Linked DNA regions of Homo sapiens: region 1 is linked to region 2. The links come from fine-mapping of genetic effects on gene expression. Tissue or cell type: blood mononuclear cells. Region 2 holds a variant in brackets; the other region holds the start of a gene. All regions are shown on one strand. Distances are from middle to middle.

Region 1 (10,249 bases), 110 kb before region 2:
TATCTAGCTCACTGTTTTGCATATAGTTGGTGCTCACAAATGCCATTTCTTTTGAATTGAATTTAGCATCCTACTACATTGACTCAAGCTAGCCTCTTACTTCAAATAATATAACTGGAAACACTGTCAACTTCTTTTCAGCCCCATTTAGTATTGGTATGCCAATAATATTAGCCAAATTTACTGTTTATCCTCTGTGTGCATTCTACAAAATTGTGTAGGTCACGAGGGCTAGGACTATCTGTTTTATTGACTAGGGCATATTCAAAGACTAACACAATAATCAGGTCATTAAATGTGTACAAGAAATATGTTTTATAAATACTAGGCATTTTACATGTATTATTTCATTTAATCCTCCACAAACCTTATGAGTATTAGTGTGCCCATTTATTGGATGAGAAAAGTAAGAGTCAGAGAGGTTATGAATCTTGCTCACTATTGTTTTGGGAGTGATAAAATAATAACTCTGATTCATAGGCTGTAACGTCTATACTTGAATGATTTTATGATACAATATAAGCAAGTATTGCTGCCTTTTAAAAAATAGACATTCTGTCTCAAACTGAGTCCAAATGTCCTTGAAAAGGTCCTCATAAATGATATCTTTTTCAGCTTTTGGAACTGAGACTTAAAAGTTGGGTAATTTGTTCAAATAAGTGGCAAAGCTTAGAACTGGAATCTAAGTATTGCCTACAGTAAAGCACATGTTCATCCCTGGCACTGTCCTTTCCAAACATTGTTGGTCCCCAACAAACCTCTAAGTTCTTTGAAACTATAGATTGGCATTAAAGGAAAAGTGCTACTTGCTCCATCGCATTTAGGCACTGGTTCATTCATACATTCCAACCAGTGTTTATCTGCTTGCTGTGTTGCCTGGCCTTTTTGTTTTTCTGCCCTGTATTTCTCTCCTTCCGTGAACAACTTTTCCCCAAAACAAATTCTGTGGTTCTATGAGAGATGCTGTTTTCACACTAGGACCCTGTTGAGGGGTTTGGAGTAGTCTGACCATGCTGTTTGATCACAGTACCTCATTCTCTGACCATAGATCATAATGCACTTACATTACTGAATTGGGATACTGAAAATTTTACTAATGAAAAAAGGGAGGCTTGTGGGAATTATTTGCCCACAGTATCACAACCAGTAAATGGTGAGGGAGGACAGGACTCCAACCTTGCCTTAAGTCTGAAGTTAAGCAATGCAAACATTGATACTTGCCTATAAGAAACTAACATGCGCCAGGGCACAGTGGCTCATGCCTGTAATCCCAGCACTTTGGGAGGCTGAGGCAGGCGGATCACAAGGTCAGGAGGTCAAGACCACCCTGGCCAACGTGGTGAAACCCTGTCTCTACTAAAAATATAAAAATTAGTCGGGAGTGGTGGCACATGCCTGTAACCCCAGCTACTTGGGAGGCTGAGGCAGGAGAATCACTTGAACCTGGGAGGCAGAGGTTGCAGTGAGCCAAGATCACACCACAGCACTTCAGCCTGGGCAACAGAGCGAAACTCCATCTCAAATAAAAAAGTAAAAGAGGCCGGGTGTGGTAGCCCACACCTGTAATCCTAGCACTTTGGGAGGCAGAGGCGGGCAGATCACCTGAGGTCAGGAGTTCAAGACCAGCCTGGCCAACATGGTGAAACCCCGTCTCTACTAAAAATACAAAAATTAGCTGGGCGTGGTGGCAAGCACCTGTAATCCCAGCTACTTGGGAGGCTGAGGCAGGAGAATTGCTTGAACCTGGGAGGTGGAGGTTGCAGTGAGCCGAGATCGCGCCACTGCACTCCAGCCTGGGCGGCAGAGTGAGACTCTGACTCAAAAAAAAAAAAAAAGTAAAAGAAAGAAAGAAAAGAAATTAACATGCAATTGAATATGGGGGCATTTTTAGACTTATTCCAACTTTTCAACTGGATGAGTTGTCATAGAAATAAGCAAGGCATGGAATAACCTACAAAAGTATTAGGTAAAAGGTAAAATCTAACTCAGATTCAAAAGTAAGTTGGAGAAAATACAATTATGTGTCCTTAATATCTTAATTTTATGTTGCTACTCTTGTGCCAAAACCTTAGCTATAACCTGTCTATTAATAAAACTATTCTTTCTTCACCCAGAAAATCACCTTATATATAACTGGTTTATTTCCCACTGGTTTAGTTCCTCTAAGATGTCCCAGCAGGAAGCTGGATAAACTGGTCTCAAGCCTGATAGAGAGGCCTGAACTGCAGGTATAAATAGGCAAATTCTTTAAGGCAGTTTTTAAGGTGGAGAAAGAATGATTTTTTTATTAAAAGGTTAAATAGGAAAACAGTAAATATGACAACAACAGGACTCCTCATCTTCTTCAAATCTTGCCCTCTCATGGTACCAAAAAAATGTACTTAAAACTTAAATTCCACCATGTTATTCTTTTGTCTTAGAATCTGACAGTGGTTCTGATCACCCAGAAGATCAGGTCCAAGTTCTTCAGCTCTCACCCAATCCTTATATTACATTTCCAGTACAAACATGGAACACATAGTTCCCTTCATGCACTATGTTTTTTCCTGCCTTATTGCCTTTTATTACAAACATCACTTCTCTCTGTAAAGCTCTCTCCTTTCTCTTCCCACTTTTACCACTCCACTACTGCCATCTGTCTTGCTAGCAACATCTTTTAAGACTTGGTTCAGAAGTTCCTTCCCAACACCACAGGCTGGGGTAGGTATTCCTGCTCTAGACTCATAATATCCAGTTCATGTCTCCATTAGTGCTCTTTCTACATTAATAGTATTATTACCTAAGGTTATATTTTGAGTTCCGTGACAGTGCTTCAATTTTTTACCTCCAGCAAATAGCTTGGTGCCAGGCACATAGTAAGCACTCAGTAGATAATGGCTGAATGAATAAATTCAATTCTTTCAATATGCACTCACCAAATAGTTACTGAACAATTAACTTTTTTTTTTTTCTTTTTCAAACGGAGCCTCACCCTGTTACCCAGGCTGGAGTGCATTGGCGCGATCTCGGCTCACTGCAACCTCCTCCTCCCGGGTTCAAACCATTCTCCTGCCTCAGCCTCCTGAGTAGCTGGGATTATAGGTGCCCGCCACCACGCCCAGCTAATTTTTGTATTTTTAGCAGAGATGGGGTTTCACCATGTTGGCCAGACTGGTCTCCAACGCCTGACCTCAGGTGATCCACCCGCCTCTGCCTCCCACAGTGCTGGGATTACAGGCATGAGCCAACGCTCCGGGCCACACTTTATTAATAATTGCTGTGCCTTGGTGCTAAGGATCAAAACAGAAAATCCTTGCTTTCATGTTTTCAAACTATATAAAGATAATTATATTAATTTCCTATTGCTGCTGAAACAAAACACTTCAAATTTAGTGGCTTAAAACAACTCAAGTTTATTATGTCACAGTTCTGTAGGTCAGAAGTCCAGCAAGAGTTGACTGGTTCCTCTGTTCCAGGTCTCATAAGGGTGAAATCAAGGTGTCAGCTTACCTGAGCTTTTGTCTGGTACCTCTGGGGAAGAGTGTGCTTTCAGTTTTATTTAGGTTGTTGACAGAATTCAACTCCTTGCGGCTGTGTGGCTGAGGTCTCCATTTCCTTGCTGGCTGTCAGTCAGGAGCCGCTCTTGGTTCCCTATGGCAACCTGCATTCCTTGTCAAATTGTTCCTCTCATTATCTTGATCTCTCTGACTTTCGCTTTGCCACATCTGTACTGATTTTAAGGATTTATGTGATTAGATTGGGCCCACAGAGATAATCCAGGATTATTTTCCTTTCTTAAAATCTGTACCCTTAATTACATCTGCAAAAAGTCCCCTTTGCCATGTAAAGTAGCATATTCACAGGTTCTAAGGATTTGGGCATGGGCATTTTTTAGAAGGCCATTCTTCAGCCTACCATGGTGATTATTCTTCTAGAATTATTTTCTGGCATATCCCTCCCTTAGGTGATCTGGAGAGATATCTTGCACCAATATGGCTTAATTTATTTTGGTTATAATGTTAAGTTTTATTTGAACAATAAAGATATTAGCAGCTCTTTTAAAAAGCTATGAACCAGACCAGAAAGGAGTGACTATGGATGTAGAAGAGCTAAAATAGATAAATCAATAATAAACCTTATAAATAGAATGAGCATAGCAAGTAACTGATACAGGGCAATGTGATGTCTCTTTTACCCAGCTTCCAAAGAATATAGCGTTGAACAATTACTGTATTTAGCATTATTTCAAGTATAGATGATTTCCTGAAGGCATTAGTCTGCTATTATACACAAGATAATCTCCAATTTTGCATACTACTGAATTTGTTTGAAATTAAATATAATTCTCTTTTGTCTCAAAACTGCCCAACATCAAAAGAATCATAAATGGGTTTTATTTTCCATTTTTAACTTATCAAACTAGTAATCTAAATGAAACTAAAAATCAATTCAATAATACAGAATTTTAGAGAGTCTACTATTTGTTGGATGTTACGCTAGATCCAGACAATACAGTTTACCTTACGCTCCTTGACTGCAGGAAACTGGCAGGCATATAAACAAATAAATTATAATACTGTGCAGCAAGGGCAATAAGAGAAGTGAGCACAGGTGGAAGGAATGATTCATTCTATGAGTAGTGAGGTAAGATTTTCCTGGCTGAAGGACAAACAAATCTTTAGGAGGACAAGGTGGAAGGGGAGCTAAGCCAACAGCATGACCAAGGCACTAAGTATGAAAAGGAACAAGAGTATCTGGGGAAGTACAGGTGTGGCTGGAGGATAGAGAGTGAGAGGCAAGTGGTGAAAGTAAAGGCTGGAAGGTCAGCAGGGTCAGAACCTATAATTTCATTCGGTATATTCTGTGAAGATGTACAGCCAGCAAAAGCTTTTTAATTCGGGAAAACACGATTGGACTTGCACTTTCAAAAGATTACCGTGGTTGCACAGAAGAGACTGACTGGGTCAGAGGTTAGTTACAGGCTGGAAAACCAGTTTAGATGAAACTGAAGAGCAAGGATGAAAGCCTGAACTAGAGCAGTGGAAATGCGAATGTGGAGCAGAGGAACGATTCAAGAAATTCTGCGGTAAAACTCATCAGACTTCATGACTGATTAAAGGTATGGTGGTAGACAAGGGAGGGAGAGGAAGGATAAGAATGGAGAAGCAGGAATTGGGCGTTATTTGAAAATTTCTGACATGGGAGGAAAATCTGGATATTTAATAACATCTGACTAAATTAGGGGATGAAAGAGCATAAGCGGAGAGGGAATGGTGGTGCTCTCTCCTTGACCATACTTTAGTTAGGCTCCTCTGAGCCCTCTTCCCAACTAGGCCTCATCCTTGGGCCCCTGTCTTAGGCCTGCTGAGTCCAGTTTTAGCAAGAATCTTGCAAAGTCAGTTTAGAGAGTATCTCCTAGCCTTGATAATTGATCATCTCCGCCTGTCTTCAGCAAGAATCTTGTAAGTCACTTTAACAAGAATATCCCCGACCCTTGATATCACTTCTTAGTAATTTTCCATGAACTGACCCCTCAGTCTGCTTGCTGGTTATAAATCCTAGCTGTTTTTGTTGTATTAAAACTTGAGGCCAATCTCTCTCCCCCATGGTGATAGTCATGGCACCTATTGCAATAGTTCTAAATGTCTTCCTTGACATTTTAACAAGTGTCAGAATAATTTTTCTTTAGCAACAAGGAGGAATCTGTCTCAAAAACTAAAGCTCCTTCCACACGCCTGTAAGGCTTAATTGGTGCATACATCTTTTAACTCTCCTGTAGCTAAATAACATGTCTGGCTTATCCACTGCTGGGGTTTACCAGGCATTATGATGTACATAATCCAGACACTGTGTCCCAAGAACATAGCAAGCTGGCTTTCCCTCCTTGATTTAAAAAAATCAAAACAACACAACTATCAGGGTAACATCCACTACATTTGACAGGTCAAAGAATCCCCTTCCTTAAGGACTTTACAATAACCTTACAGGGGGCTAAAGCATACATACCCATGGGTAGTGGGTAAGCCTTGAGAGTACAGTATAAGTCTTGATAACATTTTGAGGTTGATAACTAGTTGAAACTGATCTGTTTTCCCGACCTCAACGTAATTGCAAGGTCACTTCAAGAGGGTAAGGGGCTATTGCAACTACCCAAATTCGCTATTGTAGTATAAAAGCTTTAATTAACAGCATGTATAGGAATGCAAAGCTATGTTCTAATGAAACTTTAAAAAGCAGACACAAATATGAATGTCATATAATTGTCATCTGTCGCAAAACTTTTTTTTTAACCTTTGAAAAATGTGAAACCCATTTTTAGCTCCTAGTACAGCAGAACCTGCGGTGGGCTGGATTTGCCCTGAGGGCTGTAGTTTGCCCCTGTGGTACGTATGAAATGCCACAATTTTAAAAAGATGTGTTACGTGTGGGACCATTTGTGGGGCGGTTTATGCTAACTTCCAATACAGTAATATATGTCAACTCGCTTTTGAGTGACATTTAGTCTGGGTGGCCATGCCCAGGAATGGATATAGAGAAAGGGGCGCGGCCGCGCCGGGCACCACCCTCCAAGAGACTGGTATCGCAGCCCCCAGCTCCAAGGAACTCAGCGCAGGCAGGGGCTTCAGGGACGCGGAGAGGGAGGCTTATCTCTGCTGAAAGGGAATAGCGGCCCGCAAACAAGCAAACCAGGACACTGCTCCGAGGTCCCGCCCAGGAAGGCAAAACGAAGTCCCACCGCTCTCACACCCGGCAACCAACCAAGGCACAGCACGCCCCACCAGCAAGCCACGCCTCGCGCATCACGCACGCACGCACGCACGCACACACGTCTGTCGCGGCTTCCCGCCTTGCGCTCCGTCATGCTCTATTGCGCATATCTCGGGGCGGGGGAGGAACGGAGATTGACAAGGAGGCAGAGGCCTGAGCGAGGCGGAAAATCCTCACCCCGGCCCGCGGGTAGACCCAAACTTCTAGCGCGTCACTTCCGCTGGGGGCGGAGCGGGGCGGGGCTGAGTGGGTGGCGACCTAGCTGCTGCGCCAGTGTTTGTGTTGGAAGCTCAGCTGATGCAGGCCGGTTGGAGTGGACGTCATTGCCGGGAACGAGCGAGTCGCCGCTGCAGCCCTAGTGACTGCGGCCTGCATCCCGGTAAGTAGCCGCGAGGGGACAGGGGCGGGACGATAGGAGGCTGGTTGATCGTTCTGGACCCTTGTCCGGCGCTCCGGGTCGTCCTTTCTTTCTTTGGAGGGCACTTCCCGAGCGAGAGGGTGGGGACACGCCAGGCTTTGGGGAGGAGCTGGCGCTGGAAGGAGCCCGCAGGTCCTGGAGCTCATTGGTACTCGGCGCCCTCCGCCCCCGTGGGCTTTGCTGCCCCAGAAGCGCAAACCGTATTTGGTTTCGCAGGTCCCGCCCTGCTCCCCCTGTCCCATCCCCACGACTCCCTCCTCAATTTTCCAGAGTCTGTCTGCCTTCCCCTGGACTGTAGTGTTCTCCAGTAGTTAACTGGTCACTCTCAGGAGGGTTTCCCTAGTCTACATCATTCTCGACTGTCAGTGTGCACCTGGTGATTCTACTGCCTGATATTTTTTGTCAGTAATCTCTTTCTGACCCCATCCACATTTGATTCTATCCTTGACCGCTGTTGCTTAAGTGGATAAGGTGTATGAATCACTGTGTTGCAGTGCTTCCTATCCCTGTGTCATTTCTATCATTGTGCTGGAAGGAACCTGCTTTCCACGCCTAATACAATGATAACTTTAAAATGGTGACTCATAGGAAAAACTCAGGAGAGTTGTGACATAAGGGACTATCATATAATCCTGCTTAAAATACTGTTTTCAATTCCAAAACAGTTGTATCCTGGTTCTGCAGTCCTAATTTCTGAGAGTTCAAAAATGACAAATGTTTCAGTGTATTAAGAAAATGCTGTTAAACAGTGAAACATTAAGAGCTTATGCCTTGTGAGGCAGTTGTATCAAGCCCATTTTAGCTATTTTGTTAAATTGCTTATGCAAATTAGTTGTCCTTTCAATATAAGAACATGTTTTTATTTCGTAATTATAATCAACTTTTTCTTAATGTTGATCTCTTTTTTTATTTCTATATCAGGACTAAATTAAAATCTTGTAAACGCCCTTTTAATGAGTGATGTTGAATGAAAGGGCCAGTTTCACTAGTTTAGCTATTCACTTGTTTCACATGCAAAGTTGTTACAAGAACAGCCTGTACTTTGAGTTGTTTTTTTTTACCCCAGTTAGAGGGGTTGTGCTGAAGCTGCATATTGCTTCACTCATGGAATATATATTTGTAAAAAGGTCAGAGTTAGAATGCTGAGCCATAGACACCTTCCTGTCCTGCCATTTTTTGTTGTTGTTGGGAGTCTCTCTCTGTCGCCCAGGCTGGAGTGCCTTGGTGCGATCTCGACTCACTGCAAGGTTCAAACGATTCTCTTGCTTCAGCCTCCCGAGTAGCTGGGATTTACAGGCGTGCGCAACCACACCCGGCTAATTTTTTTAAGTAGAGACGGGTTTCCCCATGTTGGCCAGGCTGCTCTCAAACTCCTGGCCTCAGGTGATCCGCCCGCCTCGGCCTCCCAAAGTGCTGGGATTTCAGGCCTGAGCCACCGCACCTGGCCAGTCATTTCTTAGTTCTTATCTTTCTCTGCAGTACTCAAGTATTTTATTCTGTTCATTATCCATTACTTGAAAAAATTTGGTCCTGTCTTGGTTTTCAGTGTCCTGATTTTTTCAGGGTGGCTTTTCTCCTGTTTTGTTTCCTTTAGAGTCTTTTCTTCCTCTTCCTAGCTCTGGGTGGCACTCAAGGCTCTACCCCTGTCGCTCTCCCTAAACCAGAGTTTCGTGTTTGAAACCCAAATATACTTCAGTGGGCATGTGAATATCCTGAAATATTATGGAAAATATAGTTTGTATTGCAAATACACATTTTTCAAGGAAGAAAAGCTTTACTCAGGTTGCCTGATCCCAAAATAGTCATGTATTATTACTGTAAACTATCATCTGGTAAATACGTCTAATGTTGTGGTTTCTGCTGCCACTATGCTGGTAATTCCACAAGTAAATCCACAGTCTGTGTACATTTCCATTTGAATGTCCCACTGTTACTTCATCCTGTGAATCCAAAAGAAAATGTGTTTTTCTCTCCTATTAAATTGTCCCCTTCACAGTTTTCTCATATTCGCAAATGGCACTCTCCGTATTTTTCAGATTTAAAACCTTAGAGCTCTCTTAACACTTCCCTCTCTTTACCCCATTCTTGGCTGTCAAGTCCTGTGTTTTGTTGTTTTCTCTTTTTTCCCTTACTTTCAAAGTGTTCAGAGTGGCCCTCTTCCCCACACTAGTACTTGCTGGGTGAGGTGTCAGAGCCCCAGCATCAGAAAGTGGTCAGCTTGGGGTAGTAGGGTAGTAAGAAAAATTTACCGACAACACCGTAGGTTTGAAAAGGAAAGTTTTATTGGATAGAAAGAGTGCTGCAGAAGAGTGCAGCCAGGCGCCTCAGCAAGAGAGGACAGCTCACCGCAGTGGATTTTTTCTTAGGGGTATTTATGGACCTTAAAGCAGAAGCTGAAGGGTAACTTGGACCATATTAGCCACGTAGGTCATGATCAGTGATTACATTTATAGACATTTTGGTGCTTTGATATCAGCAAAAGTTGCACAGTGAGTTTCGACATGCATACATTCTGGACATGTATAGAGATTCTAGTTACTTATAAATTTCTGGGAAAGAATCCTGGTACCAGATGCCGGCTTTAGCTAATAGAGAAGTCTAATTGTTTCTGAATTCCTCAGATAAGGAGCTTTCCCTCTGGATGGTCTGCTCGATGGCCACCAGGTGATCTTTGCTCTCCTCAGTACTGTTACCTTCAGACTGTTGTCACCCTTTTGACTGTTATATTAATAATTAAGTGACATACTCTGTAAATTCATTCTTTCCATCCTTAGCTGGGTCTCCATCTAACAATTCCCTTAATTCCTCTAGTTAAAACTCCATTCCCTTCTCTAAGTGTTTGGTCCCAGCCTCTCCGTTTTGTTTTATTCGTACCTCCATTGTATTTATACTACCTCTATTCTTCCTTGCTCTTTTTTCAGTTGATGATAGCATCTCACTTTACATTCTTCTTCCTGTGTTTTTGCCATCTAACTTCTGGCTGAATGTACTCTCAAAACACTTACCTTGCATTTACTAGTGTTGTGATTTGGGGGCAATTAAACTTATTGATTTTGTTGGTCATCTTTGTTTTGTAATTTTTGC
Region 2 (10,508 bases):
TTTTTTAATGTGTGAAAATGGGGTAATAATAGTCCCACCTCCCAAAACAGTTGATGAAATAAGATAATCCATGTAAAGTGTTTACTGCACTGCCTGGCATATAGCACTAAATAAATGTTAGCTACTATAACATGGCATTTTAAGCTTAGAACATTAAGTCATGTTGGAATTTATTTGAAACATTTATTGTAGAATGGAACATAGAGCTTGAAGGCTGTGTGACTGGTATTGCAGCTTAGAGAAGAGAGACAGAAGGGAGGAGCATACTCTGACCTAAGAACTCGTGAAGTGGCTCTTGGAGGAGGTGTTATCAATGAAATGTATTTTGCTGTGGAGGAGGTTGGAATCCCCACTTCCAATAGACCTGTTTTGACTATTTTGACTACTGTTCCACTGTATGTGGCATGCCATAAACATACCTTCGTTTTAGTGGAAAAGGTTGCTGCCATTCTGCTAGTCAGATCTTTTGCCTGCTGTTAGACAAACAGAATTAAGTATGTCGTTAATCTCCACAGGGCAGGTCAGAAGTCTCTCTAGACTCCTAAAATCCTAAACTAAAACCACAGAGTTCTCAAAATAAACTGTGCAGTTTGGTCAGAAATACAAGATGATTGAAGAACAAAATGATTTACTCTGTCAGTGGTTGCTACCCAATTGATTTTTCTTAAGTTGTAGATTGAATAGCTTCAGTTCCTTATCTGGAATACAGGGAAAACAATACCTGCCTCTTTTATTTAATAAACAGAATTGACATCATTTTGTATTTTAACTTTGTACTTTTTTTTCTTCAAGTAATCTTATGAGAAAGATGACAATAGTAATAATGATTCTAATATCTACTTCATGAATAATACTTTTCCTTCTACAAAATGCATTCACATTCTTTATTTCAGTCCATTTTCAGTAGGTTTACAGGTTTGAATTACATTTCTCATTGGGGGTGACTTAGTCTTGCAATGGTCTATATTATTGAATAATTATCAACATTTGAATATATGATCATGAGACATGTAAACATTGATAAATGGCATGTGATATTATAGGCAATACTTTAGCATGACTAGTCAAAGATGAGTTTTTGCAAATTAGCTAAAATATACTAATATCCGGCTCACACTAATTTCTCTCCTAATGCTTTCAGCCTATTCCACTCCATCTAACATAAGATATTATTCTTTTATATTGTTTTACACGTTTTATACACACACATATATACATCTACACTTATAGTCTTTTTTTCGCTAAGCACCTACCATAATGTTGAGCTCATGGTAGAGGCATAATTAATCCTTCTTAACTGGCTATGTAGAGTTGCTTTTCTGTGTATGCTATTTTGGGGTATGTGGGGGAATGAAGTTATGTCTTTGCTTTCCAACAGTTGTGGTTTTTATTAACCTTTAGTTATCAAGCAGTCTTTATTTTTCTACCAACATGCTCTTACTATATTAAAGAGATATTCCTCATGAATAGTTTCTTCCCATTCTACATTTCCTTCTGTGAGTCTTTTCTCTCTCTCACACACAAGATTTTGAAAGATGCTTCCTTAAAGAGCTCCAAGACAGTGTCATGCAATGGAAAGAATGTAAAAGTAAGGGCATGAGCCATCTAGGTTATGCACGCATTAATTGGGTTTCTACTTTGGCCCTTGGGAGATTCAGTAAAGCCTAAGAAAGGAAACCAATGGGGACCAGAGGAAATCAGTAGGAACCACGGATGCCTAAAAATGCCAAGTCACAATGTAAATTCACACAGAATAAGTGTAAAATGAGTAATTGGGCAGTGGGTACTTACGGAGACAGGAAATGTTTTGTGAATGGGGAAATTGTCGTCATATCTTTCCATCTAGCTGAGAAACTCCCCCCCTTGTAAAGGACTGCAGGATTTCCTTAAAATTTGTGGCTAGAAGAAATGTGGATAAGAATCTATTCGCCTATTTATTTACTTTAAAGATCAGCAATTCATATATTGGTAAGACGTTTCCATTTATTCAGAACACACAGACTTTTTTTAGCAAAGTAGTGCTCACTGTTTGGGGATAGAGACCTTCTCAGAAGTCAAAATGCATAAAAGAGACACTCATCAGACATCAAGTGTCTGCAAGGATTTGTGTGTGTCTGAAAAGCAGAATCTCTATAGTAATATCTACTAAAGAGATATTTTTGATGACAGTCAAGATATTCATAGAGGCCAGACAAAGATAAGACCAACACATTTCAGTCCACTTCTGTTTTCTTTCCCAGATTCCTTAACTGGGTACAGATGTTCTGAAAGGATATTCTTTTGTAGATTCAAATACTTGAAAATTAAAAATAAACACACACACACACACACACACACACACACACGATGGAACTAAAATATTTGTAAGTACTTAAATTTGTAAATTCTTGGTTTGCTACCAAATAACTAGAAGATGACTGTGTTGTACATAAAATGGAAAACCAAGTGAAGTGTATTCAGTGGCCTCAGTTTCTCCTTTTTACATACACTCATTTCCCTTCTCTGAGGTGCACCTGGACAGACTTAATGCCTACTGGACACCCTCACCCCGACATCAAAACCTGTTCTCAAGAAAGAATCCAACTTTCATCCACTAGTGAAAATTTAAGTTATTTATTTACCTGTTCTGCTTTAAACTATATCTCTAGTTTTGACATTAAAAGTTTTTATCTTGGATAAAGGAATTTTGTGTGTGGACACGAAAGTGGAGACATGTAACTTTCTGAGAGAAAAGAAGTGCCTTTGAAATGAGAGCACCTGGGTGAGCTCCCACTTTTGTATGGCTTAAGCATGCCTGTTTGTGAGTACATATAATATATACCTCAAACTCTATATATACTGCCAAACTCATGAAGAAAAGGACTGAATGCAAAGTGAGCTCAGATGGGAAGAGCAACATTTGATGAAACATGCAGCTTTATTTTATGTTGGATTTTGGATATTAAAATGCAAAATCTGTAGCAAGCAGGTAAACAGGAAAGAAGTGAGGTAAATGAAAAGCAATATAAATCATATTCTTCCCTGTGAAGTAAGAAATATGTTAAGAGGAGGAGGATGTATAGGAGAAAATTATGAAAGTGAGCTGGTCAGGGTAACGAAGAGAGGAAGCTAATTGGAGATTATCTGAAAATAAAACGTCTGCAGTACCCTCTGGGGAAATTAACTGCCAGATGAGAAGCATATTGTAGGAATACAATGACTAACGTTATCTTCTAAGAACAGTTACGGGGATGAGGGCACTCCTTTTACTTAAAGAAAAGATGAAGCAATGAATCAGATGGCAATGAAAGGAAATACATACGATAAGCCCTAACCAGAGCGGACATACGGTGATTTTTTGTGTGTGTGTGTGAAACTAGTTAAGTATACATATATCCTGTTAGTGCCTCTCAATATCAGAAGGACTAGGGGATATTTTTGGAAGTTATGGGTAGGGAAGAGTCATTCCTGAAACACTCGATTTTTCAAATTTTGAGCAGATTTTTTTCCCCAGAATATTTATGTGGCATGATGTTATTAGACTTGTTACTTGTGTCATATTCAAAAGCCTATACACTGATGGTCAAATAAATGTTTATGCTATAAAATAAGCCAGAAAAAAATCCACACAGTTGTATTAAAATGTTGAAATTATATCAAACCATTTTAATCAATCATGTTAAGTATGGGCCTTCATTATAACTTGAAAATGAGGATGGTGTGTATTTTCTAAGTGCTTACGTGCTCAATAATTGTTCACACATGGGTGAATATATATATACTTAGTGATAGCAACTTTCAGTGCGTGTGTGTGTGTGTGTGTGTGTGTGTGTGTGTGTGTGTGTATAATATGTATACCAGATAAAAGACCTCTCCCTTCCCAGCCAGTGTGTGGTCAGGCCAATGCTGCTTTCACAGGCAGGCTGTGGTGCTGACCACTTCAAGTCAGAATGTCATCGTTTGTCCCATCTATTATTATGCTCTTCAGGAAAACATTTGTCCTAAGATCCTAGCCGTGATTGGTGTCCCTGGAGATGCCCTCCTGCATATTATTCTGTGAGTGGACTTGTCTTTCTTCTCAATAGATGCTTTGATATTGTGTGCTTCATAGAAGCACAGAAATCTTTTGTTTGGTGAGAGAATCTCTACCAATTTCTGGAGAGAATCTCCAGAAATACAAGTCAGCAAGTCCTTTTGCACTGGCCTTGAACTGTGGGGAAGACCACAGAAATGCAGACCTGTGGTAGCCATGACTCAAGGAATTGAGTGACCACACGGCTCCTGGTCACCTAGAAGTCATTTCTTGGTCTGCGTGTCACAGGTGTTGCTTCTGTGGGCATG[A/T]TGTAAGAGCAGAGGGGTTTCCAGAGCTCCATGCTTTTATTCTTCTGCTGAAGTCAGGGTGCATCCCATTGGTTCAGTGTTAGTGATAGCAACTTTCAGTGCTAAATGGCTAAAAGGTTGCAGTTTGGTTTGTGATATTGAGAATTGTTGCCCACTTTGTGTACAAATTGTTAATTCATTGCAGCTTAAGGGCTGCCATAGTATTGGAAAGCTGGGCAATGAGTGACTGTCCGTGAGTGGTATTTAACCAGGTATTAACACCAGTGTCACCTCTGTAACTTGCAAAAGAAAAAAGAAAGAGAGTGAAAAAGAAAGAAAGAGAAGAGCAGAGAAAAGAAAAGAAAAGAAAGAGCCATCTGCCTAGTGTCCAGAGATTTAGAAGTTGAGTTCTGGACATCTGAATTAAAAAGAAAAAATTATAGCTCATTATGACATGAACTCCCAATCAAATTGCTGGAATATTTACCTCAGTTACCAGAAAATTATTTGTTTTCTTTCGCTAGGGTTAGGATGTTTGTCCCCTCCAAAATTCGCGTTGAAATTTAATTGCCTTTGTAACAGTATGAAGAGGTGGGACTGTTGAGAGATGATTAGGCCATGAGGGCTCCACCCTTATAGGTAGGATTGTTGTTATTATAAAAGGATGAGTTTGGCCCCCTTCCCTGTGTCTCTCTTGCTCTCTCTTGTCCTTCTGCCTTTTGCCATGGGATGACGCAACTACAAGGTCGTCACCAGATGTCTGCACCTTGATACTGGACTTCTCAGACTCCAGAATTGTGAGCCAATAAATTTCTGTCCTTATAAGTTACCCAGTCTCAGGTTTTCTGTTATAACAGCTTCAAACAAACTAAGACATCTCCATAGCAATTAAAATAGGCTACTGTTGGCTATTAGCTTAAAGGATCCTTAGAAGCACCAGTATTATTTGATCAAATGGAGGGAAGCGTGTTATGTTGCAAAAGCAGAGAATCATGAGACATTCAATCACTTACTCTTTAAGGGAAGATGGAAAACATTGAAATAAATGGTCAGTGACAACAGTAGCAACATCTGAAAAGTGATGTTCCCAAACTAGGAATCTCTCTGGAGAATATGTGTTTGTAATGTCCGTTAATTGCTCAGGGAAATGAACAGCATGGATCTGAAATGGGAGGGACCTGTCATAAATAGCACAACCTCTTCCAATGGTTTGCAAGAGTAGGTGCTGTTTGATAGAAGGGTTAGTAAGATCCATGAGGAACCTCCCTTAATTATGAATGGCAATAGTAATTAACAGGATGTGTGAACTGCTCTGCAGTGATGGAAATTTCATCTGAGTTTCCTTTCCTTTTTACTGGTTTCATTCTGCCTTGTTGGAGAAGGTCCCATGCCTTCAACTATACAGACATGAAATTCAAATCTTGAAAAGCATACTATAAAAACCCAAGTTTTTCCTTGGGGGTATTAGTCTGTCTAGTTAAGGAAGACTTTTTTTTTTTAATTATTTGTCTCTTTCCCGAAGTAGTAGGCAATTAGACATCAAATGAAATTAAAAATCCCTACATGATTGTCTCCTGGCCAGAACATGTTGCCTGCTGCCATAGAAACAGCTCTCTGATCTCAGCGGTGATGACAAAGCATAGTTCTGACAAAGCAGGTTCCTTTGCCACACGCCTGTGGTTTAATCTTTTCCTCTTTTCCCCCGTGAGGCAGTTCTGTCTAGCGTTGTCAACCATGTCAATTTTGCTAGAATGTCTCAAAACATCTGTAATATGCTGATTAAAATAGACACTATGATACTATAAAAGAAATGTGCTGTTTTTCTGCTGTCTCTATCCTACTCCTGGAATTGCATCTGCAGTTTTATTTAAAGCAAATGCAGCATTCAAATCTCCTGTAGTTATTCTTGCTCCATGAAGATGAATATCTTAGTCATGCTGATCTGGAGGGATGGGCTCACATCAGCAGCTGGCCCGTTCTGTCATGGAAGAATCACTCTTCTGGACTGGAAGAAGCAAGTGAAATGTTTCTGAAATGTTTGCAGCATCTCTCAGAGGAAAAGGGAACTTCATGACAGAAATAAAGCCAGAGAGGGCCACTGTGAAAAACACTGGAGGGTAAAAATAACTACATAAGAGCAACCATGTGGAAACCACGGAGCCCTCTCATCTCCTTTTTGGTTTTGTTTTTTTGTTTGTTTTTTGAGAGGGAGTTTTGCTCTTGCTGCCCAGGCTGGAGCGCAATGGCGTGATATCAGCTCACTGCAACCTCCATCTCCTGTGTTCTAGTGACTGTCCTGCCTCAGCCTCCCAAGTAGCTGGGATTACAGGTGCCTGCCACCATGCCCGGCTAATTTTTTGTATTTTTAGTAGAGGCAGGGTTTTGCCATGTTGGCCAGGCTGGTCTCAAACTCCTGACCTCAGATGATCCACCCACCTTGGCCTCCCAAAGTGCTGGGATACAGGCATGAGCCACTGCGCCCGGCCTTCTTCTCCTTTTTATGGGTAGAAATTAGGATGTAGGCCAACCATTTAATCAAGAAGCATTTATTATCTCTTTTTATCATGCTTCTTTCCTGCCATGCCCATTTCTCATTGCATCAGATCTAAGCCCCCTTTTGATGTTTTAGGAAGTCATTAAATAATGTTCCTGTCCTCCCTCCCAAGTTTGCACCATTTGAGAAAGACGACACAAAAACCAGATTGAAGGAGAAGTGCCAGCTTGATTATAGTTCAGGCTGACTGGGGAAGTGATTAGACGTGCGGCCACAGGGCTTCCAGGTACCTCCTTCTCCATTAGACATTGTCACCCTCAAGGTCCCACCGCAGGCTGTTGCTCACACAGGCAGGCCTGCCAAGGAAAGGTACCCCTGTTGTCAGATGGCAGATATGAAAGGGAAACCAGAAGGCTCAGGGCCAAGAAGACCTTGTTTCTTCCCCCAGATTCCTTGTGCTGTTGGCTCACAGGTGTGATGGAGGGTGTGGGAGAAGCTGGGAATATTATACTGCAACCTCCTAAGAAATGGAGTATTTTTTTTCTTTTTCATCTCTTCTGTGGTAATATGAGGAGTAGCAAATGCCCTTCACCTCCAAACCCCTCTGTCTTGCCTCCACAGCCCTCTGCTATGAACCCTGGACTCACCCTGCTGCTCCCCAGCAAGCCCCTCTGTTCAGGGAAACCCAATGTCCTTCAGGCTCTCCCTGCTTCTCCTTACCACGCCCACTGTTGTGGTTGTGCTGGCTTCACCAAGGTGACTCTTCTCCAGGGAACACACTCCCTGCAGTCTTCCCCCCTTCTCTGTCTTCCCAGCGTTTTTTTAAGCCCCTCTTCCTAGCAGTCTGCCGTGGGTGAGATCTGATGGTTTTCCTCTTCTCTGTGAATACTTTTTGTTTTATTCTGGGCCCTGTACACTGAGTGGTATCAAATGGCTCCCATTTTCTAAAACACTGAACAATTTGCCCTCTAATTACATTCATTCATTCCTTTGTCTTTTTCACTTATTGTTACATAGGTAGAGTCTGGCCTCCCCAGTTAGATTGTGAGGTTGTTGTGGACAGGATTCACTTCTTTTATGCCTCTTTTGTACCCTTTCTCAGGGCTAGTCTAATGTAGAGTGGAGAGTTTATGTAGATAATTGTCTTAGCCTGGGTTCCCTAGAAAACAGAATCTGAGCTCACTTGAGAAGGTTTTATGAGGAGATGGAATTCCAGGACAAAAATAGTGAGGGAACGGGGGAAGCCAGACAAATAATACCTAACAGTGCTTTGCCAAGCTGTCCAAAGCTTCTCAAGGAAATACAGCTGGTTGCTCTGTGACACACACTGTCTTGCAGACAGGTCTTTGGGATCACACTGTACTTTGCAACAGTCTGTCACAAGAAGGAATGGCAAGGAATTGATCTTTTAGCTCCTTCTTGTCTCCTGTCTCTTACTGGTCAAGGTTTCCGCATTAAGTTTTAAGTTCCTGTTTTCAGATTATGTTACCATGACCCTCTGATCAGCCTCTGGGAAAGCCAGATCCTATACCCCACAGCAGGGTGCTTCGTTGGAATGTAGAAGTGGTTCAAGAAGCCAGAGTCTCTATAATAGCAGCTACACAGGATGAGGGTGCAGGGGTGTAGCTCCTGCTGCAGTGTGGACATGACAGAGGCTGAGTCAGAGCCATCAGCTACAGAGAGGCTGAGACAGCTGATGGTGTTGGGAGAGAAGATGGTGGCTGTGGCAGGGACTTTACACTGAGCAAGCAGCCAGAGGAACAGTGTGGAGAGGGGCAGGCAAACCTGGGAAAGCAGAAAAATTGGACTCAATACAGCACCAAATGAATTTCTATTGGCTGGATAACTAAATATAATAAATGTTTGATAAATATTTATTGATGTCTGTTGGTTAATTGCCCCCTATATTCCTGTCTTACTGTACTTATTGGGAGATACAAAGGGAAACCTAAAAGCCAATTTAGACTAAATATGTAAGTGTTGAAGGATCAGAGTAAAGGAAGAATAAAAATGTGTGAGATCAAGGTAATTAATCAAGGAGGGCTTCCTGGAGGAGGTGAGTTTTGAGTTGTCTTTCAAAGGCTATAGTGGTAAGGATTTATAAAGAGGAAAGGGTTATTTGGAATGGGAGAAAATATTGGCAAACCATACATTTGATAAATGGTTAATATCCAAAATATATAAGGAACTGAAACAACTCAATAACAAGAAGACAGCCCAAATAAAAAAATGGGCAAAGCACCTGAATAGACATTTTTCAGAAGAAGACATACAAATGGGCAACAGATATATGAAAAAGTGCTCAACATACTAATCATCAGGGAAATGTAAATTAAAACCACAGTGAGATATCACCTCACACCTGTTAGAATGACTATTATCAAAAAGATGAAAGGTAGGAAGTATTGGCAAGGATGTGGAGAAAAGAGAACACTTGTTCACTGTTGGTGAGAATGTAAAGTAGTACAGCAATTATGGAAAGTAGTATTGTGGCTCCTCAGAAAATTAAAAATAGAACTACCATATGATCCAACAATCCAACTGGGCATATGTCCAAAAAAAATGAAATCAGTATCTGAACTCCTGTGTTCATAGCAGCACTATTCACAATAGCCAAGACATGGATCAACCGAAGTGTTTATCTATGGATGAATGGATAAAGAAAATGCAGTCTATATATACAATAGAATACTATATAGCCATAAAAAGAATAAGATCCTGTCATTCACGACAACATGGATGAACCTGGAGGACATTATGTTTAGTGAAATAAGCCAGGCACAGAAAGACAAATACCACATGATCTTACTTTCATGTAGAATCTTTAAAAAGCTGATTTCATAGAAGTAGAGAGTAGAATGGTGGTTACCAGGGGCTGGGGTGGTGGGAACGGAGGGAGGTTTGGGAGATGTTGGTCAAAGGATACAAAACAAGTTAGGAGGAATAAATTCAAGAGATCTGTTATAAAACATGATGACTATAGTTATTAACATATTGTATTCTTGAAAAGTGCTAAGAGTGGGTTTTAAGTGTTCTTACCATAAAAATGATAAATATGTGAGGTAATGCATATATTTATTAGCTTGATTTAGCCATGCCACAATGCATATATATTTCAAAACATAATGTTGTACATTATAAATATATACAATTTTGTCCATAAAAATAAAACATTAAAAATACAATAAAGTGACTATGAGGGGGAAAAGAGGAAGGAGTTACTGCAAAGGTCTCACACAGTCTTAGAATCTGAGCAAAACGCCAGGTTTGGGTGTAGATTTCAGACATTTGCTGTGATAATTTAGCTTCATCGTTTTTTGGGTTTTTTTTTTTGTAAAATTTAACAACAATCTAGAAAGTTGCTCATGCTTTGGCTTACACTCTAAACTTTGGCAAGACTCAGTTGTTTTTTTTCGCCTTTGAGATTGGAATAATGAAAATTGATGGTATATAGTGTTGGCAATAAGATAGAAAAACAGTTTTCTTATACATTTATGAATGTGTAAATCATAATAGCCTTTTTGGAAGTCAATTTGATATTTTTTATCAAAATTTAAATTGTAAATAATCATTGAACCAAAAATTCCATTTTGGGGGATCTGTGTATACATAAACATATTTACAAGATTGTTTACTGTAGTTTTGTTTCCTTAAAGAAAATGGATCAACTTAAGTACCTATCAACAGTGGACTGTCAACAGTGGAATGGTTACGA

The links. PIP is the estimated chance that this variant, and not a neighbour inherited with it, causes the effect.
Region 1: it holds the start of PNPLA8, and the variant in region 2 is fine-mapped to the expression of PNPLA8 in blood mononuclear cells (TOPMed, PIP above 0.99).

Annotation. Positions count from the first base shown.
Region 1 is chr7:108,522,906-108,533,154 of GRCh38, reverse strand. PNPLA8 (patatin like domain 8, phospholipase A2) reads left to right here and starts at 7,020. Exons shown (of 11, transcript NM_001256007.3): 1 at 7,020-7,126. LOC124901722 (a long non-coding RNA gene) reads right to left here and starts at 6,680. Exons shown (of 2, transcript XR_007060473.1): 1 at 5,510-6,680; 2 at 3,373-3,704. RefSeq lists enhancers at 6,402-6,741, 7,032-7,151, 6,923-7,883, 8,563-9,098.
Region 2 is chr7:108,411,877-108,422,384 of GRCh38, reverse strand. All of the region lies in intron 1 of NRCAM (neuronal cell adhesion molecule), which reads left to right. Among named protein-coding and RNA genes, the nearest start is that of NRCAM, 39 kb to the left of the region's middle. The variant A/T (reference allele first, on the strand shown) is at 4,321.